Linked DNA regions of Homo sapiens: regions 1 and 2 are each linked to region 3. The links come from fine-mapping of genetic effects on gene expression. A gene starts in region 3. Each other region holds a variant in brackets. All regions are shown on one strand. Distances are between the middles of the regions.

Region 1 (10,363 bases), 48 kb after region 3:
GAGATGCTGTGTAGCAGGTGGATGGGGAGCCTTAGGCCTCCTTTCGATTCTCCCTCTTGACTCCCAAAAGTTTCTTCTTCTCAATTGTCAGATGCCTATTCTCTCATGTCTCATCTGCCACCTTTACCCCCCACCACCCTTATGCATTCTGTACTTTGAAAATACCTCATCTCCCCCAGTCTTTTTTGTGCCATTTTCTTAAGCCATCAAAAGTCTCTTCCCTTCAGAGAAGCTGTGTGAAGTGTATAAATTTTTTTTTGCTACATTAATCCATTAGAAAAACTTGTAAGGTAAGAAAGTTCATCTTGAAGCCACCAGGCTGTCTTTTCCCACCCTTGTGTTGTCCCCATTGTGCTGTTTCCATTTTCTCTTTTCTATCAAATCAAAACCAGCTCTCAGGAAAGAATACTCATAGGTAATTTGTGGTATCTTGGAAGTGGCATAAATGACTTGGTCTTCCAAAAGAAATGTTGCTGGTGGGGGCTGGGGGGAGCAAGTATTCTGGGTCACTTGAAAAGGCCGTAGAAGTCATAATATGTTGGGTGCCTGAATGCTCAGCCTCTGTATCTGCCATTCAAAGGGCCCTGCAAAGCAAGGCCTGTTATAATCCAGGTGTGTGTCTATATGCACCGAGGGTCACATTGTAGAAAAAAAGTGCAAAGACAACAATTTATTCCTAGTTTTTGCAAATCAGGATTGTCTTCTCCTTAGGGCAGGAAAATGAACTGGAGGAAGGAGAATAAACACAATGCTGAAGAGCCTGTTTATGGGGGTTCAAGCATTTCTGTTTCCTTCCTTGCTTTGCACCTCCTCACTCTCTTAACACTCAGATTTCTGGAATGGACCCAGGATGCAAATGTAGCTATAGGATTTGGATGCAATTCCTCTATGTTCTCTGCCATACCTCCTTTCAAAATGAGTCAAGAAGAGAGAAAACATAAAGATCATCTTCTCTTTTTAATATAAACAATCTGTGGCTGCAGGAAAAGGGGTTGAAACACGAGGGATAGATATTACTCAGGGTGACAGTCGGCCTTCTGCAGAATGACCTTTACTGACTGTTTATCCTGACTGTTGGAGAGGAAGGCCAGGAAATGCTTTCAAAACGTGGACACATCAGTAACCAGGATATATATATGTTCAGTGACTGTTCCTCTTCTACCAACTGAAATGATACGCAGTTTTATTTCTATTTTTACAAAATAATTGAAGCGAGTTCGTTGCTTTCTCCAGGGAAGTAACTGAGACATAATTTCAAGTATTAATACAACAGAAGTCTTAAAGGTATACGTGGCACATGATGCTTGAACTTTTACAAAATACTTTTCCTTAGAGGAAACTTTGGAGGCTGAATGATGTTATGGATAGAGTTCAAGTTTTGAAGTTAGATCTGTTTTAAATCTGTTTCCCTGTATGAAGAATGGTGTTGCTTATTCTCTTCGATCCCATTTCTTTCTGTATAAATGTAGTAACAACATTTAAATCTTTCTTGATTGCTACAAGGGTCAAATGAGAAAATCTATGTGAAGTGTCTGGCGGGGAGTTGATGCTCAATGAAATTTAGTTTCCTTCTATGGCCAGAGACTGCTTGTTGCCTAACCAATATCCATATCCCCTTTTCATTTAGTACAGACCCTGATTTCATTCTGATGGCTGTATGCTCAGTAATGAGGCCATATGTCCCAGCTTCCTTTGCTGCTAGAAGTGGTCATGTGATGTAGTTCTAATTAATAAAATGTATACAGTTGTTGGGTAAGGTTCTGGGAAAGTGCTGTAAAGGGGAGGACATCAGCTAATCCAGACTTTTTCTATTCCTTAACTCCTTCTCCCTATTTCTCCTGGAAAGCAGACATAATGGTTGGAGTTGCTGCAGCCATTTTGGATCATAAGGCAACTTTGAGGGTGCAGCCATGCGCTATTAATCAGAATTGTAGAGAAAGATAGGTATCTGGATCCCTAATGACACTGTAGAGCTATAGCTGCCTAGGACTGCCTACCTCTGGACATTTTAAAAATATGTGTGAGCTGAAGAAATTTTTATCTTGTTGAAACATCTCTCATTTCTAGCATCTGTTATTAAGCAATGGAATACAATTCCTAACTAATATGCCTTTCTCTTATACTTATTTGCTCTTATTTAATCCTCACGTTTATCCTGTGAGTTAGTTTAGTTTTCCCTATTTTATAAATAAAAAACCTGAAGTGAAGAGGGTTAAGTATTTTGCTCCACATCACTCAGCTATTCTGGGTTACCACTGATTTTTAACTTTATTATCATTGCTCTTTCTACCATAAAGGGTAATCTGTTGAGTTTTCCCAAGACCCTTTTACCCTAGGTCTTGCAGCCAGTGTGGCATGATGGTTAGGAGGCCAAACTCTGGAGCCAAACTACCCAAATTTGAATCCTGGTGCTACCAGTTACTGCTGAGAGATTTATGTGCAAATTGCTTGACCTCTTTGAGCCCCAATTTCCTCCTCTATAAAATCGAGATAGCAACACCTCATAGAGTTGGTATCATCCTGAAATGAGTCAGTGTATCTAAAATGCTTAGAACAGTGCCTGGTATATAGAGAGCTATTAAGTGTTAGCTATTACCGTTCCTTTTTCTACATCAGGCAGACAAATCCACTCATTGGACACAAAATCTCTAAAACCATAGCTAATCTTGAAAGATTTTACCATATTTCTGAGGTTTCAGATTTACATCAGTGTTATGGGGCATGAGTATTCTTAGCTAATTCAGAGTCCTTAGCTAATCCTGAGACCTTCCTGTGATCACATGGTTATGAGTGGGGGCTCCCTGTAATGGCACCCCTGATGGGCTGGGAGCCCAGGAATCCCTGGTGGTGGGAATACCATCTTTGTTATATAGGAAATGGGAGCAGGTGGCTGATAGGATTCTGGGTGAAGAATACTGGGGCGTGAAGGACTAAAAGTTAAGTATAGAATGGAGGCTCGAAAAGACATGTTGATATCTTAGGAAGAAAAATATAATTTTCTAGACTGGAGCCAAGAAAGAAAAAAAAACACACATAAGGGAAGGCTGTAAGGGAAGGAAATAAAATTTAAAAAGGGCAGAGAAATTCTCAAGCCTGGTGAGGTCTGGAACTTACAGACTTTAAGTCCTCGGGATTTTCACAGTATGCCAACCTGATATGCATATTTTCATTTCATGGTGGGGAGGGATTAGGGGAGCAATTGTTTCCCGGGGGAACATTCTCTAAAAATATAACTTTTTACATAGGTTTTTTTTTTTTTGAAAAGGTAGTGTGTTTCATGAGGATGAAGACCACAATGAGGACATCAGAAGAAGGATTCTGTTTTTTTTTGGGGGATGGAGTTTCACTCTTGTTGCCCAGGCTGGAGTGCAATGGCCCGATCTTGGCTCACCACAACCTCTGCATACTGGGTTCAAGCGATTCTCCTGCTTCAGTCTCCCAAGTAGCTGGGATTACAGGCATGTGCCATCACACCCGGCTAATTTTGTATTTTTAGTAGAGATGAGGTTTCTCCATGGTGGTCAGACTGGTCTTGAACTCCTGACCTCAGGTGATCTGCCTGCCTCGGCCTCCCAAAGTGCTGGGATTACAGGCGTGAGCCACTGCGCTCGGCCTAAAAGAAGCATTCTGAAAGCTCAGCATGACCAAGGAGGGAAGGGAGGATGGTGAGAGGAAGGTCTTCTTCTTTGTGCTTGTTCCTCTGTGAGCCCACAGCAAGGACCTGGCCAACCTCTTCCTGCTCTGCCCTGCCTGAGGTGCCGACTCACCCCAAGGTGAACTCTGTAAGACTTCTGGACATCTGTCACTTCCCTATGTTGCCTATTTTTGAGGTCCTTTGTCAGTTTCCTCACAGAATTTGTTATAAAATTCTTAAATTAAAATGGGATTCTGTGTTTGTCCTTACTGTCAGTCAAGGAGGCAAGGTGAGGAAGCCTGCCCCAGTTGGGCAGGTGAGGGCAAATGTGGGGAGTGGTAGTGACAGGGAGAGGGCATTGTCCTGGGGTTTGCTGGAAGGGAAGCAGGGACAGATGGAGGGATGATCCTGGGTGTGCATTCAGAAAGGCTTGCGATGGTTTCTTCTATCCTGGCCTGCTTTGTAGGAGAAGCCACACTGGGCTGGTCCTTGTGTTTCTTCTACCTCATTTTTAAGTTCCTTTGAAGCTTATTGTCTGAGATAAAGGGGACACCTGTGTTTTCAGTGGGCTCAGCTCAGCTGCTCCGTGAGCAGGAATACATTTACTATACTTGGTCATTGCATATTAAGCCCTTTGTTTTTGTTTTTAAAAGGTTCAGTGGTTTCCTTTTATCCACCTCACCCCCCATTCCATCCAGTCTGTCACGTGGCCAGTGTTGTGTGCCTTAAACAGATGTTCTCAATTTCCCTGAGGAGTAAGTTATGGATGAGTCAGCCCCAATGGGGTGGGTGATGGAGCTGCCTAGAAGTGTTTCTTATCAGCTCCCAGGAGGCTGCCTCAGGTTCTAAGGGTAGAGGTGGCCCCAGGAAAGTGGGTGTCAACTGTTCACAGGAAACAACTGAAGCAGGACTTTGAGAACTGCAAAGAATAGGGCATCAGCCACAAGATAATTTAGGTCCCCAAGCACTAGGCGTTGACTTTCTCCTCCCACAACACCTTTGAGAATTGTAATTTGCTGCAGCTCATGTTGGTTCAAAAATATTGCAGGGCAACTCTCCTTGTTTATCTCACCTAAGTGGCTCCTGAATCCATTGGAAAAGAACCCTCCAAGTTGAGTTATAAACATTAAAAGATGACCTGTTGGTCTCATAAATAACTTTGCTGTGCTGTGTGTGTGTGTGTGTGTGTGTGTGTGTGTTCGTGTGTGTGTGTGTAGAAAACTTATCCAAAAATTATTTCAACCCCTAGGCAATTGCCAGGGAATGTCTTAGAAAACCACAGTGGGCATTTTGGAAAAATGCTCTGGGGATGGGCCCAGAACACCAGAACAGCTCAG[T/G]GGCTGCCTCTTCTATGATGTTACAGGGGAAGACTATAAATCTGAACCCTCTGCTGCCCCCACCCCCACATTACTCATATCTCAGCTCCAAGGCAGCAATAGCAAATCACTGTGCCGGAGCCACTGCTTAACATGTTTTACTTCCTTTTAGTTGAGAAGCTTTTTGGTTGGTGTTCAAGTTATCTATTGTTGTATAATAAAACCCCCAAACACAGGGGCTTAAAATAACAATAACCATTCTGTTTGCTCATGAACTCACAATTTGGCCAGGGCTTGGGAGGAGCAGCTCATCTTGCTCCACAAAGTGTCATTTGAGGACACCTAAAGGTGGAGTCATCTGCAGGCTCACTCATTCACATGTGTGGCTGCTGCTTGGGAAATTAGTTAGAGCTCAGCCAGAACACCCACATGTGGCTTCTCCACATGACTGCCTGGCTTTCTCACAGCATGGTGGCCAGGTTCTAAGACAACAACCCAACAGAACAAGGCAGAAGCACATGACGTTCTTATGACCTAGCCGTGGATGTCACTTACCACCATACTTCATTGGTGAAGGTAGTCCTCATTCAGTTTCTGGAGACTTTCTTCTTTAACATTATTCTTACAATATTACTCTGAATCCATTTGTCCTGGTCTCTTATAAAAAAAAGCACTAATCACCCATGCATTAGGTCACTTTTGTTATCTACACAAATAATTTTTCCTTTCAGTGTATTTTTTTTTCTGTTTGTCATTTTCCTATGCTTCTGGGAGAAATTTTTGTGTTTATCCTCTACATGACTTAATTTTCCACATTCTCATTCTGTTCTTTAAAAGATTGATTTAAATTCTTCTATAGCATTTTTTATTACATAATTTCCTGAACGCTGCAGGCTTTTTTTTTGACTTATTCTTATGGTTCTTATGTTTAACCCTTTCTTCTTTTATTAATCAAGGTTTGTATTAATTTTGTTAAGAAAGATAGTAAATGTTAAGGTTTTTGTTTTTGTTTTTTTTTTTGCAACAGTGAATCTTTTTTTTAAATGGGCTGTTTTCTACTTCTTTTGTTTTTTATTTACCTCTTTCTTCCACACTGCAGGGCACCTTCACAGTCCCTAATTTTTAAATTTTGTTTTCTGTGTATTCACTCTTGAGAAAGAAGAGAAATATCCCACTGTGGTAACAACTAAAGAAAGTACAAACGTGTTTGTTTGAGTCCTCTTGTGTCCACCTGTTGGCAGTTAGATTCTTCCTCCCAAATGTCAGGTTCAGGGGTTGTACTTTTAGATGATGTTTTGAGAGGTCTCGTGGGCCAGGAGATCCTGGAGAAGAACCCAGCATTCTCAGGAGTCACAGCGAAGAATCTTCATTTCTGTTGCTACACCAGTTGCCAGATGTCCAAAACCTGAGGTCACTGAGGGGCATGGCTGGCTGAGACTCACCTCTGTCCTGGAGCAATGGGCTGGTGTGTGTGGAAGAAGATCCCATTGAAGGGAGAGTAGAGAGGTTGAGTCCCACTGCACTGAGAAGGATCCTCATCCAGGGACTTCTTAGGATTTCTACCTGCAAGCTCTTGGTTTAGTGTGGCTGTGTTTGCTCTTGGACCTTGTAATTCAGCTAAATTCGGGAAGCTGTCCATCAGCTGGTGCCAGATGAACACTGGATGGGATTGTGCTGGTTGCCCCTCAGCCTGCTCTTATCTCTGGCTCCCAGCCCTCCACATTAGGGGTGGTAGGGTATTCTGACAGGTTTTCCTTTGCTTACAAGAAGTAGGGTTGTACCATTTCCTAGGGAAGGAGAGTTGTGATTCAGCAGTCAGCCTTTTCTTTCAGCCTGGATCCATTGGCCTTTTAGCAGAAATCCCTTAACTTTTAAGTATACAAATGACGCCTTTCTTTGGTTTGAGCTATAAGATTTTTATCCCTCTTTTTTTGTTGTTTTTTTTTGTTTGTTTGTTTTTTTGAGACAGTCTCGCTCTGTCACCCAGGCTGGAGTGCAGTGGCATGATGTTGGCTCACTGCAACTTCTGCCTCCCAGGTTCAAGCAATTCTCCTGCCTCAGCCTCCCAAGTTGCTGGGATTGCAGGTGCATGCCACCACACCCGGCTAAGTTTTGTATTTTTAGTAGAGATGGGGTTTCACCATGTTGGCTAGGCTGTTCTCAAACTCCTGACCTCAAGTGACTGTCTGCCTCGGCCTCCCAAAGTGTTGGGATTACAGGTGTGAGCCACCACGCTTGGCCTTTGTCCCTCTTTTTACCTCCAGATTGATATTCCTTCAGAAATAATTTCAGCTCATTTCAGGGTGCAGGAGTGTTGGGATTTCTTCACTCGTTTTATCTTTTCCCCCAAATTATTGTTGGATTAATTTAGACTAGAGCTTCTCAAACTCAGCCCTATTGACATTTTGGGCTGGACAATTCTTTATTGAGGGGGGCTGTCCTGGGCATTGCAGGATGTTTAGTAGCATCGCTGGCCTCTACCCACTACATGCTGGTGGCACCCTATCCCCACCACCAGCAGCCTCCAGCTGAGAACCACTGCTCTAGAGCTTCTGCAATGCATCCTCCCACCATCCCCATGCCATGGCATCTCAGACCCCAGAACTGGAGGGCATCTTGAGAGATCACCTGTGTTTGCCCCCTTTTGTCAAGCAAAAAAGATGTTGTTATCTGCTTTCAACAGATGAGGTTAGATGATAAAGATGAGGAGGAAGAGGCAACTGAGCCTGGCCCGAGATTGCCCCTTTACACTTATTTATGAGAATAGGACTTGGGTTTCTTGTCTTCTGGAGCTTCTGCTATATGCTTTGTAGTCCTGGCCCATTAGGAGATAAAACTTCTCCATACAGGAACCCTGCTTGGCAGGACTTCCCTAATCCTTATTTATTTGAGACAGGAGAAAATGCTGAGAATGACTTAATTGGCTTACAGTGTACACATGTTGGAGTTTATGCTCTAGGAGTAATTCTGCTATGCAGAAGCTCTGATTTCCCTGTGAGGCTTGGCTCTGCAAGGAGGGAGTGGAAATGAATGATGGGCAGAGACAGACAGCCATGGACATGAGAGTTTACTGCTCTAACCCTCACTGGTTCTCATCAATGTCAGGGAAGAGCTAGTTATGAAGAAACGGGAGGTTGGGGAGTGTTGTTCAATTTAAATTACAGGGTGTTTGAGAAAGAGGCCACTGCTCTCAGACAGGAAAATCCTAGCCTGTTGAGTGGGAGAAAAAAATCGTACTGAGCAGACATAAAAAGAGTATGAGGGAGGTAGTTCAACTCCGTGTGACTGCTGAAATGACAGCTCTTTGGGAACTGCACAGTTATCACCCTGAGTGTGTGACTATTTTAGCTCACAGGAACTCCAAATGGGGTTGTGTGAAAGGCCTCATTTAACTTTGAGGCCCGAGAGGCCCCCAGGGAGACAGATGTGTTCCTCAGGAACAAGAAGCAGCTCTGCGGTGTAGGCCTACCTCTCTTCCTGCACTGTCCTTCTCCAGGGAAGAAGAAATGGTTTGCTGTACACAATTGGAATGTGCTGAAGGGGAGCAGGGTAGTAGTCAGATCCTTCCCTTATTCCTGCCAATGTTACTTGATGATTCAATTTCTCAGCAATATCTGGCACATGGTTCCCAGGTCATCGGTGAGAAGAAGCAGCCTCAACCGGGTCATGGAGCCTCTCAGCTAGAAGCCCTCTTAGCTGGAGCTGGCACCCATGGAGTTCTCACCCCCTTTGCCAGTCCCACCCCTGGCCGCAGCAGCCACCGCAAGTAACTGTTGACTCCCTGTGTGCGAGGCTCTATGGGATAGGAAGCTGCTGCATGAGATGTAGTTCCTGTCATCAGGGGCTTGCAGTCAATTTGAGTGGACACATGAGAAAGATAAGAATCGATGAGAAAGCCAAAAGAAACCTCAGCGTAACAACAACCAAAACATCTCAACATACTCTATGCTACATTCTTGAGAAGTCCAGACAGTCAATGTCAAGGTGATAGAGTATCGCTGTACCCTAAGGTTCTTGGGGGAAGACTTCCCATTGGCTCCTGTGAGTCAAGCTGGGAGGAAAAGGTGATAAAAACCACCAAAGTGTTACCAGTATCCAAAAGTCCTTCAGGGACTTCATCATCACAAAAGTCCTTCAGGGAAGATGTTATCAGCACTCTCATTTTACGGATAAGAAACCAGAGGCTCGATGAAAGCGAATAAGATGGACAACTTGAGTATTCTACCACATGCCATGCATTATAATTGGAATTTACAAGGCTTCATTAAATTTCCACAACCAACCTGTGATCATTATTATTATCACTATTTTTACAATTTCAATTTTACAGCCAAGGAAACTGATGCTCAGCACAGCTAAGTAGCTTTTCCAAGACCATACAGCTTGTCTATAACTTCAAGTCCTAAGCTTTTTCCATTTTAGCCACATAAATATGACTTGGAGGAAGGAGTAAGGAGGGAGTGAGGAGACATTCTTGGCAGGAAGAGTAGCTTAGGCAGAAATGTATCTGGCATGTGTAGAAATCTATCTCATATCTTTGGGGTACAACCCATAGTCCATGAAGACCAGAACAGGATTTTCCAATTACAATGCAGGGTATATGATAGAATATCCAAGTTGTTCATTTCATTCTCTTTCTTTGAGCCTTTGCTTCCTTATCTGTAAAATGAGAGCACTAATATCATCTTCCCTGTGTGGGACTAGTCAGGAGATCAGCTTGACAAGTAGTAGGGCTCTGATTTTCTTTTTTTGAATAAATCTATGAGGGAAGTGTTAGGTGGGTGAAAGGGGAGAGTCTGGAAAGCTGTCAGATCACGTGGGTGAGTATCCCATAGTCCAGGATGGGATACCGGAACTTGGTGTGACTGCTGAAATGACAGCTCTTTGGAAAGTGATGAGAGTGACACATAGGAAAGACCTGCCAGGCTGAGTTGATTGTATTTGTGAAAAGGATAAGCAGGCATTAATGAGGGCATCAAGATTCTAAGCATCAGTGACTGGGAGAATGAAGACAGAAACAGGTGTATTCAAAGAGGATATATACATATGTATATATATATATATTTTAAAACATCAGGCCAGGTGCAGTGGCTTACACCTGTAATGCCAGCACTTTGGGACGCCGAGGCAGGCAGATCACGAGGTCAGGAGATCGAGACCATCCTGGCTAACACGGTGAAACCCCGTCTCTATTAAAAATACAAAAAATTAGCTGGGCGTGGTGGCGGGCGCCTGTCATCTCAGCTACTCCGGAGGCTGAGGCGGGAGAATGGTGTGAACCCAGGAGGCGGAGCTTGCAGTGAGCCGAGATTGCGCCACTGCACCCCAGCCTGGGCGACAGAGCGAGACTCCATCTCAAAACAAACAAACAAACAAACAAACAAAAAAACATCAGTTCCATTGTTGGGCTGCT
Region 2 (10,363 bases), 100 kb after region 3:
TTAATTAATTAATTAATTGAGACAGAGTCTCACTCTGTGCACAGGTTGGAGTGCAGTGGCACAATCTAAGCTTACGGCAACCTCTGCTTCCCAGGCTCAACCAATTCTTGTGCCTCAGCCTCCTGAGTAGCTAGGATTACAGGTGTGTGCCACCATGCCTGGCTAATTTTTTGTATTTTTAGTAGAGACGGGATTTCGCCATGTTGGCCAGCCTGGTCTCGAACTCCTGGCCTCAAGTAATCTGCCCACCTCAGCCTCCCCAACTGCTGAGATTGTAGGCATGAGCCACCGTGCGCGGCCTCATTTAATTCACTTTTGAAAAACAAAGTATAGTATGACATCACATTCTACTGAATATTCTTTGGGATATTTCTTATAACCTTTGCTGCTTTCTGCCCCTATTTGCTTTGCTTTAGTTCAGGCACTAGTCCCTTCATAGTTAGCTAATTTCCGGAGTACTTTGGTGAATAACTCTTCCAACCCCAAACCTTTCTAGAGACCACGGTCATAAAACTCTTAAGTCATGAATATTAAAATCTCCTGGGCTCCAAATTTGCTGCCACATAAAAACTAAAATTCTCTGCCTTGTGCTGGTCCTGCAGTAACTATGGAAACATAGTGATTAAGAATACAACTCTAGAATCTGGCAAAGCTAGATTTGTTCCCACACTTCCTAGGTTTGTAAAGTGGGGTGTTTCAGAGCTTCCCAAGTCTGTTTCTTCCTCCGTAAATGGAAGATAATAATTGTATTTACCTCATAAAGTTGTCTTGGAATTGACATGAGATGATGCCTCTAAAGTGTTTAGCAGTTTGCATGGTAAGAGCAAAAATTGGACAAAATATTAGCAACACTCGTTGCATTTTCTGTGACTCTCCAGGATGCTTGCTCAGCTCTGGTCAGTGGAGCCTATTCACTGTGAAGCAGGGTCAAGAATGGTAGCACAACATTCCTGGCAGGTATCCTAATGGGTACTGAGCCAACCCCATGTATTGGGTAGGAATCTATTGTTAGCACAAGAAAAGGAAGCTTGGGATGGCTAAAGTGAGGTAGACAATTGGTGAAAGACACTGAAGCAAATATCTAGTGTTTGACTTGAGTGGTTTGAGTTCTGTAAACCAGGCAGAGGCTCATTCTATTGTGTCAGGTGTGGCAACATTCTCTATGGAAGCTAAATTGTTTTTTGGGATTCATTGATTTAGGCAGTGTCTAGATGTGAAGAGACAAGACAGGAGATGTCTCTTACCTATCTAGATGTAGTGCTTTTTTACTCCTGGGGTTTGGAGGTATGGGATGTTCTGTGTGCTCCTATGATGCTCCACACTGACTTGATGCCCACTGGAGTTGTGTGGAGATGCTGAGCACATCCCCGGAATGGGCTGGGAGATGATATGAAGGCTTCGCATAAGTGACCCTGACATCTGAAGCAGGCTCTTCTGCATAATCAGTGATGCTTATAGGCAGAAACTAGATACCTGTAACTAGATATCTGTGGGCCATTGGATGTCAGGAAAGGTTATTAGCATATTCTGAAGCACCTGTTCTGGCCATTTCTTACTGGCTTGAAAGTCATTGCCCTGTCCAACAAGGCTACGTTGTATACCTTGCAATTTGTTTCAGTTTAGAGCACAGGCATTTGTTTATGTAGTTAGAATTTTAAACACTGATGGAATAGTTTCTAATTTGTGCCTGAGAGTTTACACATAATCTGCGAGCATACAAAAATTTGCAATTCTATGTGGATGATGGTTTAAACATCAGCAGGGAAAAGTAATATGCTTTTATTGTATATTTTAGAATGCTGATTGAATTGGCTTCTCACTGTATTTGTCAAGGCTGGAACAGACGATGGCACTGCAGAATCTTATGTGCACAGAAGAAATCTACAGACATTCAATGAGGGGAGGATTTCGTTCCATCAGATGGGCTTCCTGACATAATTGCAAAGGTAGCATGGAATAGAGAAAAGAACATTGGAGTGGTTCCAGAATTCTAGGTGGTTTCAGATTTTTTACTAATTACTCAGGTGGCTTTGGGCAAGCCACTTAGCTTCATAGACTTCTGTTTCCTCATCTGTAAAATGAAGTGAGGAGACTTCTTGTTAAGTTTGGCAGATTAAACACTTGGGTTTATCTACATGTTCTCTCCAAACACCACTAAACTTTGCAGTAAGGAAATAAAAAGACATTAAAAACAATGATAAAGAGAGCAGGACAATAACAATAACAGCAATAACATTTTTAAAGCAAGAGAGAGGTGAACCAGTGGTAACTCAGCCCTGAGGAAACAGAGCCTCCATGGGAGTGGGGGAGGCCCAGAAGCAAAAGTGGTCTTACTAGAGTCCCAGAAAGACTCAGTAATGGAAACCTAGGAACTTCCAAAAGTGGGGACAAATTAGGGTCAGAAACAGGGAAATAGGCTGAAGATACGGATAAAAAAGCAAATTCATCAGAGAACTCCTCCCCAACCCTGCCCCTTATCTCTGAAGCTTTAGCTGGGAAAGCCGGGCTGACTCACTTCTGGTGAATGTGGTCTGCTCTCCTCCTGTAGGCAAAGCCCAGGCTCTTACATTGTGGCTGGGCAGGGTTCCAAGAGGGCTAGTCGAGGCATGCAAAGACTTTTGAGGCCTAGGCTTGGAACTGACACAGTGTCTCTTCTATGCATTCAGTTGGGCAAAGCAAGTCACAAGTGTAGCTCAGATTCAAGAGCTGGGGAGGGATAGGGTCTACCTCTTGATGGACAGGGCTGCAAAGTCACATTGCAAAGGAACGTGGCTACAGGGAAAGAAAGAGTTGTGGCCAGTTTTGGAAACAAGCTTAAGGCACAATAAGGATGAGATTCCTGAAAAATTCAGTTTTCAAACTTGCACACAAAAAGTAAGGCCATGTGCAAAAAAAGATTGAGGTAGAAAATTCACAACTTATGCAAAGCACTAGTAAAGACAATAATTGATACTCAGGAAATTAACTTGTACTATTGAGGCAGGCTGCGTGTGGCTGGGGCCTGTTACAATTGTTGTGAAGTCAGAGGAATAATTGAGAGAGAATGTTAGTAACACATACACAAGAGCAGAGCTGGTAGGAACTCCGACAATGCAGTAGAAGTGGCCTTCTCAGTCAGTGTGGCTGCCCTGAAGGTGCCACAGAGACAATACCACCTGCCAGGAGTCAAGAGTCCCACAGGTGTGGGGTGTAGCCGCTTCGAGGGTGAAGCCCAGGTTTAAGTACTTGTTTTTAATTTTCAAACCACAGGCAAACGGTTTCTATTGCCAGAGCAGCAACCATTAAAAACTTTTTCCTTTCCTACCGAAGGTTATACTTCTGCTCCACATCCTGTTTTCTTGAGCAGAGGAAGTATTGCATATAAATTAATTCTGCATTATACTGACATAATTTTTCTATTTACCAACTGCGTAGGAGCTAATTTGTATTATAAAACCACATCTGTTGTAAAATAGACTCCACAGAGGAATTATGTAAAAGTCTACATAGTGCATAGAGAGGTCCTCAGCCTCCTTTCCCAACCTGCCTTCAAGAACATGCTGGCAGCCAGGCTTTTATCCCTTAGGCAAGAGGGTGGATGAGCCTAATTGGAAAGGCATACAGATATCAACTTTAGGGATCCCTCAATCAAAAGCCCAGCCAAATCATCCTACAGAGCAGCCTGTCTCCTTAAGGCACAGAGCTTCCAGTCAGCTTTTTATTGCCTTGCTTTTAAAGGTTAAGGGACAGCCAGGGACATCAGCTATTTGACAAAAGCTTCTAATTTGAAAGACACAATCAACAGAAACAATGGGAACAAAAGGAACAGAAAGGAGGTAGGGACAATGTAAGGAATAGAAACAAAGAAAAAGCTAACAAAGGCAAAACTATAAATAATATCCTCTGAGTATAAAAGATGATATTGCATACATAAAATAAGAAGAGAATGTTATAAAAAAGAAATATTCAGAGAACAAAAAGAGCTCTTAGAGCTTAAAAAGAATATTGCACAAATGAAAATTTTAATAGAATTGTTGGAAGATAAAGTTGAGGAAATATCCCAGAAAGTATACCAAAATGACAGACACACACAAAAAGGATTTTTTTAAAAAAAAATTCGAGGATGAATCCAACAGGTACAATATCCAACTACTAGAAGTTACAGAAAGGAAAAAAAAAAGCAGAGGGAAGGATATTACAAAATAAATGAATTAAGAAAATTGCCCAGAACTGAGAGGCAAACCTATAGCTCGAACTGGTTAACTCACAAATAGGTGAAAGGACACACATCACACCTTACATCATTGCGAGAGTTTAGAACGCTGGCAGAGAGAGAAGGTCCTAAAAGCTTTAACTGGAAAAAAACTCCCAATAATCACAACCATAAAAATGAGAACCCAAGTATCATTAGTCTTGTCAATAGCAAAATGGGAAATTCAGAGGGAAAATGATATCCAGACTAGAGTTTTATACCCAGCCAATCTCACAATTAATATGAGGGAATAATAAA[T/A]GCCTTTTCAGACACATGAAGACTCAACGATTTATCTCCCATCAACCTCTTCTTAGTTAATATCAGCCCATGTGCTCCAAGAAAACCAGAGGAAATATCAAGAAAGAAGAAAACATGAGACCCTGAAAATAAAAACCTCAACCCAGAAGGTATGCCAAAGAAATCTCCAGGGCGACGGGGAGGGAGATGCAGATGCCATAGCTGTGAAACTAGCTTGGAGAGCAGCAAATCCCAGAAGTGGGGCACAGAGGCTCCAGAAAAATGTTTCAAAGGGAAGGATGAAGGCTTATAGAATACCTGATTGCTTGAATGCGTTGAAAAAAATATTTATTCCTAGAAGTCTGGGAATGAATATTCATTAATATTGGATGAAGAAAATAGACTTTTATTGGCCGGGTGCAGTGGTTCATGCCTGTAATCCCAGCACTTTTGGAGGCCGAGGCGGGCGGATCACGAGGTCAGGAGATCAAGACCATCCTGGCTAACACAGTGAAACCCCGTCTCTACTAAGAATACAAAAAAAAAAAAAAAAAAAAAAATTAGCCAGGCGTGGTGGCGGGAGCCTGTAGTCTCAGCTACTTGGGAAGCTGAAGCAGGAGAATGGCGTGAACCCGGGAGGCGGAGCTTGCAGTGAGCAGAGATCGTGCCACTGCACTCCAGCCTGGGTGGCAGAGCCAGACTCCGTCTCAAAAAAAACAAAAACAAAAACAAAAATTAGACTCTCATTAAAGCAGAAAAAATATTTTGGTAATCTTACCATCCAGAGATAATCACTATTCTTGTTTTTACGTACATAGTTGAGACCTTTATGTATGTTAAATTTTGTATCTTTCTCACACATCCATATCACGAACATTTCCTCTAAATTATATAAAACATAAGCAAGAAATAAATTGATAAAGAGGAGCTTATGGTACATATCTTTTATAGGTCCTTTCCTTCTATAAGGTAAAATAATTTAATGAATTGGACTAGATACAATATTCTGAAATTGGGTGGAGGGTAGTGCCAATTTTAAATTATCCTGTCTACCTATCAAGTCATGTTTGCTTTTATTGGGTGGGTGCTCAGAATATGTGATCCTTGAAGAAATAAGCATCCATGTCTATGGAGACATGACATCACCTTTGGGAAAATGACTTTGTGACAATTTATCTTACTGTATTTGACAATAACAGTGACATGTTATATATGCAGAGTGCTGCTTATGAACTTTTAAGAGCTTTCTCTTGCTGTATCTCACTCAATTCTGACAATAACTCCATGAAGTAGGTAAATAGACAATTTTTTGTATCCCCAAAACATTAATATTTAATATAATGTAAATGTTACTAACAGTGTCTATCTTAAATAACACCTTGCATTTCTTCAGGATAGTGCTTTCTCAGGTAATATTGCATGAGATTCTTTGTTTAGGAGAATTGGGCTATAGGAAATTCATAGAAATGCTGGAATGCTAATGGAAATTTCATGCCTTGCCTATTTCTCTCCATCCACCCATCCATCCATCCATCCATCCATCCATCCTCCATCCATTGACTTGTAGTCTGACGGCTATAAAAGAGGTCACATGGATTATCAGATAATTCTTCTTTTTGGCCAATTGTGGAATCATGTCTTAGTGATAACACAGGTTTCTCTTCTCTTGCTCTGATGGTAGTTCCCTCAACATTTTCCCTTGGAATAAAATAAGGTCTGGATAGTAGTATTTGCAGGACCCCAGCAAGGGTAGAGGTGGGAAGTGGGAAAGGATGCTCCATTAAAACAGTGAGGAGGAAGAGCCATCCGATTTTATGCAGCTGCAAACTGAATGATGAACTGGACTGGGATCTGCAGGACTTGATGGGCCAGTCAGAATAAAATGTCCTAGTCTTTTTAAACAACAGTTTCTTTGCCTAAAACACAGAAATAGAATTCACACCTATTTCAAAGGCATGTTGTGAAGATCAAAATAAGTTTTTGCATCATTTTAAGATGTTTTGGAACCCTTGTGTTAAAGGAATTGGAAGCTTTCTACCTCTGGTGCATGAAAAATAACCAAAGTTCAGCCCATGCAGCCATGAAGAAGCTTGAGAAAGACCACCGCTAAGAATGGAAAGGGGGCCTATAACTCTGGTACACTATACTCCTGCAGCCCAAGAGCCAGCTTCTCCAAAAACTACAGGACGGAAGTGCAAAATCCCTCTCTATGCTCTTCTCAAAGCTCTTAGAGAAGTCCTTTTGGCTCTGTTATCCGCATGGGTTCTCTGTGTGTGTGTGTGTGTGTAGGAATAACAGCATGTTTGGCTGGTGGAACACCTCTGTCTTCTGAACCCTGGTTCTTCTTGATTTTCCTTTAATTAGAGTTGATTTAATTATTAAAGTTTCCTATTTTTTTTTAAGAAGGCAAGGAGTTCTATTGATTTATAATTTCCCTAGAGCTTATTGTTGTCTTGCTATGACCCAAAGAAAAGCGTGTGTGGAAAGAGAGGTCCTATCAGAGAGTTCTGAGGCCACTGATTGACCCTCCTCTTTCTACCCTAACTAAATATGAAAATAAAAGCAGGCAGCAAACATCTGTTATCTTTATCAGAAACCTGGACTTTCAGTTTCATACCACACACGTGAAATGGAGAAAACAAATTAACTGAAGGCACTGTAGACTCTGAGTCACATAGATGTATTTTTAATTTTAAACAATTGCTTGTCACAAAACTCAAAGTATTTTTTTTTCTTTTCAGTGTAGGAACGTGGGAAATGAGTGCGTAGTGTGCCTGCAGGGCTTGGACCTCGTGCCCTTGGAGCTAGGAACACGGTGCTTTTGGGATTCTCTTTCTATCCCCTAGATGGCAGCAACATTCTTTAGAGCCTAACTGGTAAAAACAAACAAACAAACAAAAAAAACACCTATGGAAAAGCTGCAAGTCCTGCCTGTTTAGTCTTGGCTTTCAAATTTACATAGTACCTTTACTGTGCTATTTATGTGACTGCTTGGCTTAGTGAGTCTACTATTTATTAATGAGAATACATGACTTTCTCTGTTGTATGGAAAAATAATGGTTTTGTATATCTAGGTCTGTTGGTATCTCTAGACCAGGGTTTCTCGCATTGACATGATTGACGTTTTGGGCTGCATAATTCTTTGTGGTAGGGAGCTGTGCATTGAAAGATGTTTAGCAGCATCCTTGGCTTTTACCCACCCACTAGATTCCAGTGGTACTTCTTCCCTCCCCACCTCAGTCATGACAACCAAAAATGTCTCCAGATATTGCCAAATATTTCCCGGGGGGCAAAATCAGCCCTGGCTGAGAACCACTGAATTAGGTTGTTTTACTTATCTCCAAAGATTAGCTCCTGTATTACTATCATTTAATTTTGTAGGGATGGTTAAATTAAAGCATATCTACTTACACTTTTTCTTTTCTTTTTCTTTTTTTTTGAGATGGAGTCCTGCTCTGTCACTCAGGCTGGAGTGTAGTGGTGCGAACTTGGCTCACTACAACCTCTGCCTCCTGGGTTTAAGCAATTTTCCTGCCTCAGCCTCCCAAGCAGCTGGGATTACAGGTGCCTGCCACCATGCCCAGCTAATTTTTGTATTTTTAGTAGAGACAGGGTTTCACCATGTTCACCAGGCTGATCTCGAACTCCTGACCTCAAGTGATCTGCTCACCTCGGCCTCTCTACTTATAATTTAAATATATTCTATTTTTTTATTTGTTTGCTTGGGGGATACTTTTTCTGGAGGAGAAAGAAATGAGGCTGAAAAGACAAAGATACATGTAAAGACGTTGCACATCTTACCTCCAAATGAGAAGATTGAGGTTTTCAAATTATAGCTTCCTATTAATAATAGCCACACATATATACTTTTGTTACTTTTTATTCCTTTTGATTTTAACTAGCCTGGCTGAATATGAATGATGGGAAGGAGAAAAGCAAAAGGGGGTTATACTTGAAAATTGTTTTAGTCTATGAAAAAGGCTCAAAGAATTATAGAAGGATTGTGGAGATCACTCGGTCCAACTTGTGAGCCTTAAATCTGGGGTGCAGTAGTTATGGTGTAAGCTGAGGAGGAGCCAGGGCAGTATCATCACAGGTGCTCAGCCCAATGGCCTCTCCTTGGTGAGGAAGGTGAAGCCAATTTGAAAGCAAAGAGAGAGATTCGGTTCTCTGCAAAAAACAAACAAAACCAAAGCCAGTCCCTCCTCCACCCAATCTTCCATTGTAAATTCTGAGAAGGGAGCACCAGGCCTGGAGGATGCTGTCAGAACAGGACTCCTGAGGAATTAGATGCACCCGAGATGGCGATGGGACCCAGGTGTAATAACCAACACTCCACCTTCTATTAAATAGGAACTTTCTTCTGATTTGTTCCAAACACTCCCCACACTCGGAGAGCATTCCAGTGAAGTGGGTGGAGAAGGAAACAGATGTGAGACCAGATGCAGATCTGAACAAATTTGTTAGGTGAGTTCACGGATCCTTCCTTCTTTGGGAAGTGTTAGAGAAAGGAGGGAATTTCTGGAAACCAACCAAGTCAGTCTTGGAGATATATCCAGAGAACTCCATCAGCTATGAAGGGACCATGTTCCCACCTTTAGAACAGATATGATCTACAAAATAGAGCAAATGCTTTTTCTGGCGAGGAAGGACAGAGGGCAGAAAATGAGGTCCAAATAGAGTGGTTTGAGTTGTCCTCATCTGAGCCTAAACAGTTATGATGGAATCTCAGGAGGAGCCACATGGTATGAAAGGGTTTAATATTGAGTGAGCCTGGAGGAGGGACAGTATTGAAAGCCCAGCTCAGATGTACAGGATGTGTCTGTTCTTTAAAGATACTGATGCATTTCTCTTGAATTTTTCTACACTGCTGGGTCAAGCTATGTCAAGAATCTCTGTCTCATTGGGAAATGAGATATTTTCTACAATCTGTTTTTTTCTCTCATGATTCCCGTCGAGTTAAAGGCTGACATCTCATCAAGCAGCTCAACAGCCCCAGAGAGAGAGAGCGAGAGATCCCTTAGAGAGCTGGGCCCCAGGGAGAGACACATCTGAGGAACTCTCCCTGCATTGACTTGGCTTTGTGGCCTCTGTCCGAGGTTTTCAGATCTTATCAAATAGTGTCTCATTTGCACTGCAGTGCATGTCACAAAGCCCTGTGGATGCAAAGGAGGTGACAGCAAAAAAGGTTAACAGCAAACTGGGGACAGTGCCAGGAATGGAACTTGATTCCTTAATTCTTGTTCCAGAACCCAAGCAGCCTGGCTTTGCCAGGGCCAGCCTGGGTCTGTTCATAGAGCTGTCATTTGGCTTTTGGTCGTTTATATACCATTTGCTAACTGTTCATAATTCCAGTGCAATTTTCCTCAGAACATGGGAAACAAAGACAGCGAAACAAGGGGCTTTTATGTTTTTCTGTGCTGTCGTCAGTGGATGAAGTTGGCTGGGCAAGAGTACAAGCTTTTTCTTGCTACACTTGATGGAGTTTCCTTTTTTAAATGAACATTTTTAGGGAGAAAATGTCAGTGTGCAGGGTAAATGCAGAATGCCCTGTTAAATATTTAAAACATAGCATTTGTCCATCGATTTTGGCAGGGTTAGAGTCAATAGATTAATCATTCAGTCAACAAATACTTGAATAGATGCAAATCATTCATTGCTGTCAGAGCTACTCCTAGCCCCCACTGAGTCTTTGTGCAAAATTGAAAAAGGGGGTCCTCTGGGCAGAAACAACTCTGCACCAGGCCACATGACTTCAAGAGTCCCTAGCTCTCAGTCATGTGCCTTTGTGCAGTGTACAAACTGTGCAACTGTACATGACTATACATTGAGAGAGAGAGTGGGCCATATATTATGCCATTAGAGTACAAAATTAGGTCTTGAGCAGAATTTCAA
Region 3 (10,363 bases):
ATTTCCCTGATGATATATGGTGTGGACCATCTTTCATATGCTTATTTTCCATCTGTATATCTTCTCTAGTGAGATGTCTGTTAAGATCTTGGGCCCATTTTTTAATCAAGTGGTTTGTTTTCTTGTTATTGAGTTTCAAGAGTTATTTGTATATGTTGGATATGAGTCCTTTATCAGATATATCTTTTTCAAATATTTCTCCCAGTCAGTGGCTTGTCTTTTCATTCTCTTGACAGTGTCTTTTACAGAGCAAAAAATTTTAATTTTAATAAAGTCCTGCTTATTGATACCTTTTTTTTCATGAATTGTGCCTTTGGTGTTGTATCTAAAAAGTCATTATTGAACCCACATAATCTAGAATTTCTCTTATGTTATCTTCTAGAGTTTTACATTTTACATTTAGGTACATTTTACTTTTGTGATTAACTTTCAGTTAATTTTTGTGACAAGTGTAAGGTTTATCTCTATATTTTTTTTACATGTTTAGATGTCCAGTTGTTCCAGCACCATTTGTTGAAAAGACTTTTTCTCTATTGTATTGCCTTTGTTCTTTTGTCAAATATTAGTTGACTATATTTATGTGGGGCTGTTTCTGGGCTTTCTTTTATATTCCATTGATCTATTTGTCTATTATTTCACCAATACCACACTGTCTTGATTACTGCAGCCTTATAGTAAGTCTTGAAGTCAGGCAATATTCATCCTCTAACTTTGTTTTTCTTCTTCAATCTTGTGTTGGCTATTCTTTGTCTTTTACCTCTCCATATAAACTTTAGAATCAGTTTTTTAATATATACAAAATAACTTGTTGGTATTTTGATTGAGATTGCATTGATCCATAGATCAAGTTGGGAGAACTGACATCTTGACAACATTGAATCTTCCTTTCCATGAACATGGGATAGCTCTCCATTTAGTTAGCTCTTTTCTTTCTTTCATCAGCATTTTCTAGTTTTCTTCATATAGATCTTATACACATTTTGTTGGATTTATACCCAAGTATTTCATTTTTGGGGATGCTAATGTAAATAGTATTGTGTTTTAAATTCAAATTCCACTTGTTCATTGCTGGTATATATGAAAGTGATTTACTTTTGTATTTTAACCTTGTATCCTGAAATCTTGCTGTAATCAGTAATTAGTTCCAAGAGTTTTTTTGTTGCTTCTTCAAATTTTCTACATAGACAGTCATGTCTTCTGTGAACAAAAATAATTTTATTTCTTCCCTCTCAATCAGTATACCTTTTATTCCTTTTTCTGTCTGATTGGATTAGCCAGGACTTCCAGTACAATGTTGAAAAGGAGTGATGAGAGGGGACATCCTTGCCTTGTTTTTTAATCTTAGTGGGAAAGCTTCCAGTATCTCAACATTAAGTATGATGTTAGTAGTAGATTTTCTGTAGCTATTTTTTTTTTTAAATCAAATTGAGGAAGTTCCCCTCTATCCTAGTTTGCTGAGAGCTTTTTTTAATTTATTTTTTATTTTTTATTTTTGATGGAGCCTCGCTCTGCTGCCCAGGCTGGAGTGCAGTGGCACGATCTCGGCTCACTACAAACTCTGCCTCCTGGGTTCAAGCGATTCTCCTGTCTCAGCCTCCTGAGTAGCTGGGATTACAGGCATTCACCACCATGCCTGCCTAATTTTTGTATTTTTAGTAGAGATGGGGTTTCACCATGTTGGTCACGCTGGTCTCACCCGAACTCCTGACCTTGTGATCCGCCCGCCTCAGCCTCCCAAAGTGCTGAGATTACAGGCGTGAGCTACCACGCCTGGCTGCTGAGAGCTTTTATCATGAGAGAGTATTGGTTTTGGTCGAATGCTTTTTCTCCATTTATTTATTTTTACTTGTTTTCTATTTAAAAAAAATTTTTTTATGGAGATAGGGTCTTGCCATGTTACTCAGGCTGGTTTCAAACTCCTGGCCTCAAGTGATCCTCCACCTTGGCCTCCCAAAGTGCTTTTCTTTATTTTTTTATATGAGCATTTGTTTTTTATTATTTAGCCTGCTGATGTGATTGATAACATTGATTGATTTTTGTGGTATCCTTGCATATTTAGGATAAATCCCACTTGGTTCATTTTTGTGCTATTGATTGATTTTTGTGCTATCCTTGCATACTTAGGATAAATCCCACTCAGTTCTGGTGTATAATCCTCTTTGCATATTGTGGGATTCAAGTTGCTAATATTTTGTGGAGAATTTTGCATCTGTGCTTATGGGAAATGTTGGTTTTCAGTTTTCTCTTCTCGTAATGTCTTTGATTTTGGCATTAGGGTGATACTGGCTTGACAGAATGAGTTAAGAAGTATTTCCTCTGCTTATACCTTCTTAGAAGTACTTCCTCTGCTTCTATCTTCTTAAAGAGATTGTAGAGAATTGGTATAATTTTTCCTTAAATATTTGGTAGCATTCACCAGTGACCCCATGTAGGCCTGTTGCTTCCTGTTTTGGAAAGTCATTATTAATTCAACTTCTTTAATAGGATGATCTTTTCAGACTGTCCCTTTCTTCTTGTACGAGTTTTGGCAGATTGTGTCTTTCAAGGAATTGGTTCATTTAATCAAGATTATCAAATTTGTGAGCAGGGTGTTGTTCATAGAATTCCTTTATTATCCTCTTAATATCCATAATGTCTGTAGTAATGTTGCCTCTTTCACTTCTAATGTTAATAATTTGTATCCTCTTTTGAATTTGAATTTGCTAGAGGGTTATCAATTTTATTTATCTTTTCAAAAAATCAGCTTTTGGTTTCATTTATTTTTCTTTATTAATTTTTTGTTTTTAATATGCCCTCATTTTCATTATTTCTTTTTTCCTGCTTACTTTGGATTTAACTTGCTCTACTTTTTCTAGTTTCTTAAGGTGGAAGCTTAGGTTGTTAATTTAAATCAGAAAGATTTCCTTTCTAATGTATACCTTCAATGCTATAAATTTCCCTCTAATCACAGCTTTTGCTGTATTCCACAAATTTTGATAAACTGTGTTTTTATTTGTATTTACTTCAAAATATTAAACAATTTTTTGGGGGATTTTTTCTCTGACCTATGTTTGTTTAGAAGTATGTTGTTTAATCTCCATGGGTTTTAGGATTTTCCTGTTATCACTTTGTTACTTATTTCTAGTTCAATTTCATTGTGGTCTGAGAGCAAATGTTGTCTGATTTCTCTTCTTTTAAATTTGTTATGTTGTGTTTTACGGCCCATAATGTTATCTATCTTGATGAATGTTCCATGTGAGCTTAAGAAGAATGTGTATTCTGCTGTTGTTGGATAAATTAGTTTATAGATGCCCATTATTCTAGTTGATTCATGATGTTGTTGAATTTGACTATGTCCTCACTAACTAATTTTCTGCCTGCTGGATCTGTCCATTTCTGATAGAGGAGTGCAAAAGTCTATAATACTGGGTTCATCTATTTTTCCTTACAATTCTGCAAGTTATTGCCATACATAGTTTGGTGCTTGTTGTTAGGCACATACACATTAGGGACTGTTATGTCTTCTTGGAGAATTGAGCTATTTATTATTAGGTAATGCTCCTTTTTAGCCCTGATGACTTCCTTGCTCTCCTCTGTCTGTAATTACTGTAGCTACTTCCACTTCCTTTTGATTAGTGTTAGCATGATGTATCTTTCTCTATCCCTTTACTTTTTCTTGTTCTTTTTTTTTACAATAGTCATTCTGTACAAGAACATCAATGTATCCCTTTACTTTTAATCTATATGCATATTTACATTTAAAGGAATTTCTTATAAATAACATATGGGTTGATCTTCTTTTTTGATCCATATTGACAATCTCTGTCTTTTAATTGGTGAATTTAGACTATTGATATTTAAAGTGATTATAGATCTAGTTGGGTTAAAATCTCCCATATTTGTTTCTGTTTTCTATTTGTTGTCCTTTTCTTTGTTCCTAGTTTTGTCTTTCACTCTTTTCCTGCCTTTTGTGGTTTTACTTGAGCATCTTATATGATTTCATGTTTCCCCATTTCTGAGCATTTTGGTTATTCTGCTTCTTTTCTTTTATCTTTATACTTTTTTCAGTATTTGCCGTAGAGTTTGAAATATACATTTACAATGAATCCAAGCCCACTTTCAAAGAACACAATACTGCTTCATGGATAGTGTAAATACCTTGGTCATGTTCTTTTAAATCAGAGTTCCCATATAAAGATGCTTCAAGAGAGAAAAGATTTATGACGGTAGACTTTTGTTTGCTATACCCTTTAGAAAAAAACATGTTTCTAAAGGATAATAAACCTACTTGTTCTTTCTGGTGGCCGGTGACTGCTTGAATAGTGTTTCCTTAGAATTCATGGCCACTGAGAATCACAGTATGTGGCCATATTTGGAAATAAGATCTTTGCAGATGTAATTGGTTAAGATGAATTTGTACTGGATTAAGGTGCGCCCTAATCCAATGACTGGTGCCCTTATAAGAAGGCCAAGTGATCACACAGACACACACAGAAGGAAGAAGTCCGTGTGATAGTGGAGGCAGAGACTGGAGTGATGCAGCTACAAGCCAAGGAACACCAATGATTGCCAGGAGTCTCCAGAAGCTAGGAAAAGGCAAGAAAGAATCCTACCCTAGAATTTCCGGAGGGAGCATGGCTCTGCTGATACCTTGATTTTGGACTTCCAGTTTCTAGACCTGTAAGAGAGTAACTTCCTGTTCTTTAAGCCACCCAGTTTGTGGTAATTTGTTATGGCAGCCCTAGGAAATGGATACAGTAGTGATGGGGGAGTTTCCTTCACTCTGATTGCTGTCATGTGATTGGCATTCCACTGTAACACACCTGGCCACTCACTCACTCACTCAGGGGAGGAAGAATGACTTAAATCTGCTTGTTGACCTGGGAAGGATAAACTGGACACTTGTATATCAGCCTTTTCCCTTCTTTTTTTCTCTTGGGTGTGAACTCACCCCAGAGAGCATGCAGTCTATGTGGGGAGGCCTGCAGAGGATCAGTATTACGAGGCCCCAGGATTGCAATATAAGCAACATCTTCCAATATCGGCCTTAGCAGTGATAAGTTTACATTTTAATTGCCCCAGTGTATTTTTTAATCTTATTTCTCAATTTGTTAAGTACTCAGCATGTATATGGATGGATTGAGGTGGGGAAAGGAAAGCCCCTTTAGACTGGCAATAACCCTCCAAGTTCCTTCTGTTCTCAGTAAAGATTTGTTTAGTTTCCCTTGAGAGGAACATTGTATGGAGAAAGGACACCCTGAGGGATGAATTAGTCCTCCTGTCTGCCTAGCCAGGATCATAATACCTCAGTCATACCCCACACACAAGAGAACACATTCAGTTTTCATATCTTCCAGGAGAATGACTTCAACACCTTCTGAAAGACCCCTGGAGTATTGAATACACTTTTTGTTACTTATCTTCCTTAAACGGCTGAGTTGATGAAAAAAAAAAAAAAAGGTCTGGGATAGGTTAAGATTTTAAAAAACTTTTATCTTTAAATTTCATTTATTATTATTATGTCTCAGTTTTACATTTTTATTTTGAAATAATTATAGTTTCACAGAAAATTACCAAAAATATATGGGGAAGTCCTGTGTATCCTTCACCCAGTTTCCTCTAATGGTAACATTTTGCGTGACTATAGAACATTATCAAAACCCAGACATTGGCATTGGTACAATTGGCAGAGTTTATTTAGCTTTCAAGGGTCAGTCTCTTCCCTCATTTGCCCCCGTCAGGAGGATCTTACTCTCCCAGACTTGTTCTCAGCCTTTCTGGGGACAAATGAAGGAAGCAACTGGGGAGAAGAAACTAACCAGAGGTTTGGAGATGTTTCTCAGGTTATTTTGAGAACAGCCGATCCGGTAGGTGAGAGAAGTGGGTAAGAAAATAAATGGAAAGATTTTAAGTATTGCTGTTGAGTGTGAGTAAACTCTGTTTTTCCTTTTCTCTCACACCCCAACAATTAACACAGAAGACTTCTGTGACCAAATGTGGTGGTGGGGGTTCCCTTATACACCAAGCAAGCAATCGCTTCTGCAGCAGGCACCAGCTGGGCGTCCTCCAATTCAAATCTGACACTGTCTACTGGGAGATACCATCAGATCCCACAGGTTGAGGGCTCAGTCCCACAAGACCACTCTTTCCTTCTTACCAGTCGTAAGTCCAGGCCTTCTGAACTTCTGACTGACTGGCTTCAAGTTGGGGTTTCCATGACCTCCTCTTTGAGTTTAATTAATTTGCTGGAGTGACTTACAGAAGTCAGGGAAACACTTATGCTTACCAGTTTATTATGACGGATATCTGAAAGGATGCAAATAAATAGCCACATGAAAACATGCATAGGGTGAGGTCTGGAATGGTCCTGAGTGCAGGAGCTGCTGTCCTTGTGGAGTTGGGATACGTGCCCCTGCTCTAGCAGGTGGGTGAGTTCTTCGCCTTCCTGCCAGCCTCCATGTGTTCAGCGCCCCGGAAGCCCTCGAACCCTGTCCTTTGGGCCTCTTTTGGAGGCTGCATTGATTGTCCATAATTGAAGCAGAGACAACTGTGTCAAAATGTGATTGGATAAGAAGAGTATGCTCTAAACCCAGCAAGGCCTGTCTGTTCAGATTCTTTTTGGCCTCTCTGTGCAGCATTCCTTCCTCCTGGGAATGGGGCAGGACCTCTTCTGAAATGGGGTCTTATGACCTGCAATCAGACAAGGTAGGTCAGGGAATTTCTTTTTGGCCAGTGCAAGACAGAAAGGTAGGGAACAATTAGAGTATATTTTTAGTTCCTAAGGCCTGCCTTGGGAAAAAAAGGGAGCAGGTGAAAGGAGGGCAGGAGACGGTCAGAGAGAGATTGTATTTTCTCAGGCCTGCTTCTGGGATCTAAAGTGCTCCAACATTACAACAAAACACTGTCACAAGCGCTATGGGAGTTACGAGCCAGAAACCTTGGATGAAAACATATATATAAAATAGTATCACAGCTGTAGTCTCTGGGTGCGCCCCTCCCCAACCCATAGTGTTAGAGAATTTCAAGTAATGACTTTTATTTTGCAACCTCTTTCAGGTGTTATAATATTGTTTTCTAAATGCTGTCTTGACCCAGTTTTGAGGCCCTGTCTAGAGGCCAGTTTCCCTGCCTAGACAGGCGACTGGCCCACGCTTCGACTACCTCCGCTGGCTACTGTCCACCCACACCGATCACCCCAGGACCAGTATCACACAAGCAGGGACAGCCCCTGTGCCCCAGAGCCCACTGAAATTATTCCAATTAGTCCATCCTATGCCTTTTGACCCTGCCTCGCAAATTCCTTCCCTGTAAGCCACAAAAAAGGCGTTCATCCACAGATCCCCCTCCCTCTGCCTCCTGAGGGGGTCCTGGTTTCTTGTGTGACCTCTATCTTTTCAGTGATGTCGTTTCTTGGCCTTATCACACTTAAATAATTAGAAACCTATTAAAACAGGTGGGTGGACCCTTTCACTGCACCACTTCTTTGGAAAAATAACTTTATTTGTTTCAGATCAAGTATGGCAAAAAAGAAAAGAAAGGATCACTCTGTGGGCAGCCTGTGGCTTTGTTCTCCCGTGCTGTTCTGTAGGTTTATAGTGGGTAGGGAGGATGTGTGGGTGTGGCAATGTGTATGTGTGTGTGTATATAATGTTTGCACTATTTTTTTCATGTAACTTAGCTTTAATGGAACTTATATATGAATAATATACTATTGCAATGTATCCATACTGACAATTTTAACTACTTTATAATATTGTATTTTATGAATGTACCATCACTTACTTAACCGTTGCTCTGTTTTTGTCACTTTGAGGGTGCTTATTTATTTATTTTTTTCAATAGTTTTCTACCTACAATACCACATAATGAGGCAGATGTGCTTCATTTGGAGTTTGCGTTGGGGAAGGTCTAGCCTGGCAGTTTGATCAGAGGTCAAGTTTCAGAAGTTCAGAGTTTTATTTTATTTTATTTTAACCACTAAAATGACTTGCTCATGAGCATCTTTGTACAAAACTTCTGTGTGCTCTTGGGATTATTTTCTTGGAATATTTGACTTAAAATTATAATAGTCTCCCCTTATTGGAGGTTTTCATTTTGAAGTGTTAATTGTCCTCAGTCAACTGCAGTCTGACAGTAGGTGAGTATAGCACATAAGATATTTTGAGAGAGAGAAAGAGAGAGAGAAAGAGAGATGACATTCACATAACTTTTATTATAGTATATTGTTATAATTGTTTTATTTTATTATTAGTTATTTCTTACTGTGTCTAATTTATAAATTAGACTTTATCATGGGTATGTATATATATGAAGAAACATAGTCTATATAAGGTTTAGTACTGCCTGTGGTTTCAGGAATCCACTGGGGGTCTTGAGGTGTTTCCCCTGCAGATAAGCAGGGACTACTTCCATATTAAGTTAAAAGGCATTTGTATTTTTTCTCTTTTTATGTATGTTGCCCAAATCTACAGCTAACTTTTGCATACTTTGTCAACAGAAAATGTTTATACTACATTCCATAATATTTAAAAATTAAGGAAGAATTATAGAGGTAGAATTTTAAAAATTAAAAACAAAACCTCTCCATGGACCCCATAAATACATAGACCTACGATGTACCCATAAAAATGAAAAAGTTTTAAAAAAACAAACAAAACCTCATGCACATCTTATGTTGTGGAATGAAATTTGGAAAGTATATCTAGAAAATAAGATTCCTGCTCAAGACCTACTGATCAAAATCTCTGGGAATGAGACCTGATAGCTTACATTTTAAACAAACTCCCGAAGTTATTATTATTATTATTATTTGAAACAAGGTCTCACTCCATCACCCAGGCTGGAGTGCAGTTATGCGATTATGGCTCACTGCAACCTCGACCTCCTGGGCTCAAGCGGTTCTCCTATCTCAGCCTCCTGTGTAGCTCAGACCGCAGGCGCATGCCACCACTCCTTGCTAACTTGTTGATTTTTTTGTAGAAAAAGGGTCTCGCTTTGTTGCCTATGCTGGTCTCGAGCTCCTGGGCTCAAATGATCTGCCTGCCTCAGCCTCCCAAAGTGCTGGGATTACAGGTGTGAGCCATTGTGCCCGGCTCCTCAAATTGTTCTTTTGTGCACAGAAGTCCATTTTATTTTACAAGTAAGGAATGGAGGCTCAGAGAGATTGAATGTCTTGCTCAGGGACACAAGTCCTGGTTTACAATGCAGATGGTTTTGAGCATACTATGAAAATGCCAAGCCAGAAGTCATTTAAGAGTCATTAATTCCTGCAGACTCCTGCTCATGACAGCCATCTCCTGATCTAACCTGCTATAGTTATGGGTCGAGGGTTAGTTCCATTATAATCTCTTTTTAACGTGGCATTGTCATTCAACTTATTTTTGCTTCACTCAGTAGAGAAAGCCTATTTATTAAGCCATTAGTCAATTTGCTCTTTTTAAAGACAGCTCATGTCCTTCGTTCTTTTCTAGCGCCTGTGAAGTCTCTATTTTCCCATTAGGAAATGTATTGTCACGACTTGGCATTTAGTTTATAATGTGGAGGAAATTAAAAAGCAGTTGGTGATGTGAGACAGAGACCTCCAGGCCTCAGAGTGAAGGTTACATGGAATCCTCTGAGGGATGGGTCTTGTCACCCCAGCCGTCTTGTGACTGTGGGAGAAGACCTAAATTAGCAAGCGTGTTTGAAGGCACGAATTTCCAACTCCGTTTCTGAAGTTCCACCCTGAGCCCTAATCAGGTGCATTTTCTGGGAAATTGATGCTGAAGAGAACGTGCTTTTTTGGTGTTAATTCACAGAAATGTCAAGTTTTCCGAGAACTTATAGTAGTAGAAAATCTAGGACATAACCTCTACTACGATGACATTTTTAAAAAAAATACGCATCCATCTATATCCTCCGTTGACATTTCATTTTTTTTCTGATGAGAGAAATGCTGCCAAACATGGATGGTGATGAAACCTCTAAGAACACAAAGGATTTATGACCAGGGCACAGATGAGCTAGCTTCTCCACCTCAGGCCTGCCCTTTGTCAGCTTTGTGATCCAAATCAGATGAAGCAGAAGAAACTGGAGTGCATCATTTGACATGGAACTGACTCCCAAATCTTTTCTCTTACTTCCACTTACAGGTCTTTTTGGCAGTTAACCGTCTTGCTCCTTTTCCTCTTACATCTGAGATTCTACCATATTATGGAAGTAAAAGAATAAATGAATACAAGTTCCATGAATCTACTCATACAACTAAAGTTCCTTTCTTTTATTTTTTTAATGGACATATAATAATTGTACATATTCATGGGGTACATAGTGATTTTTTGATACATGTAATGTATAGTGATCAGATCAGAGTAATTAGCATATCCATCATCTCCAACATTTATCA

Alleles and levels. Positions count from the first base shown, and alleles are read on the strand shown. Sizes are in standard deviations (SD) of each study's normalised expression. Not every link is listed here.
As copies of G replace T in region 1, the expression in fibroblasts of the gene that starts at base 5,775 in region 3 goes down (moderate effect, 0.41 SD a copy in GTEx).

What was found.
Region 1: its variant is fine-mapped to the expression of RMEL3 in fibroblasts (GTEx, PIP above 0.99).
Region 2: its variant is fine-mapped to the expression of RMEL3 in lung (TOPMed, PIP 0.97).

The regions. Positions count from the first base shown.
Region 1 is chr5:57,437,331-57,447,693 of GRCh38, forward strand. All of the region lies in intron 1 of RMEL3 (enriched in melanoma 3), which reads left to right. Among named protein-coding and RNA genes, the nearest start is that of ACTBL2, 40 kb to the right of the region's middle. The variant T/G (reference allele first, on the strand shown) is at 4,972.
Region 2 is chr5:57,492,280-57,502,642 of GRCh38, forward strand. RMEL3 (enriched in melanoma 3) reads left to right here. Exons shown (of 4, transcript NR_186596.1): 2 at 1,796-1,946; 3 at 4,501-4,638. Among named protein-coding and RNA genes, the nearest start is that of ACTBL2, 15 kb to the left of the region's middle. RefSeq lists enhancers at 2,015-3,214, 2,613-2,672. The variant T/A (reference allele first, on the strand shown) is at 4,490.
Region 3 is chr5:57,389,333-57,399,695 of GRCh38, forward strand. RMEL3 (enriched in melanoma 3) reads left to right here and starts at 5,775. Exons shown (of 4, transcript NR_186596.1): 1 at 5,775-5,846.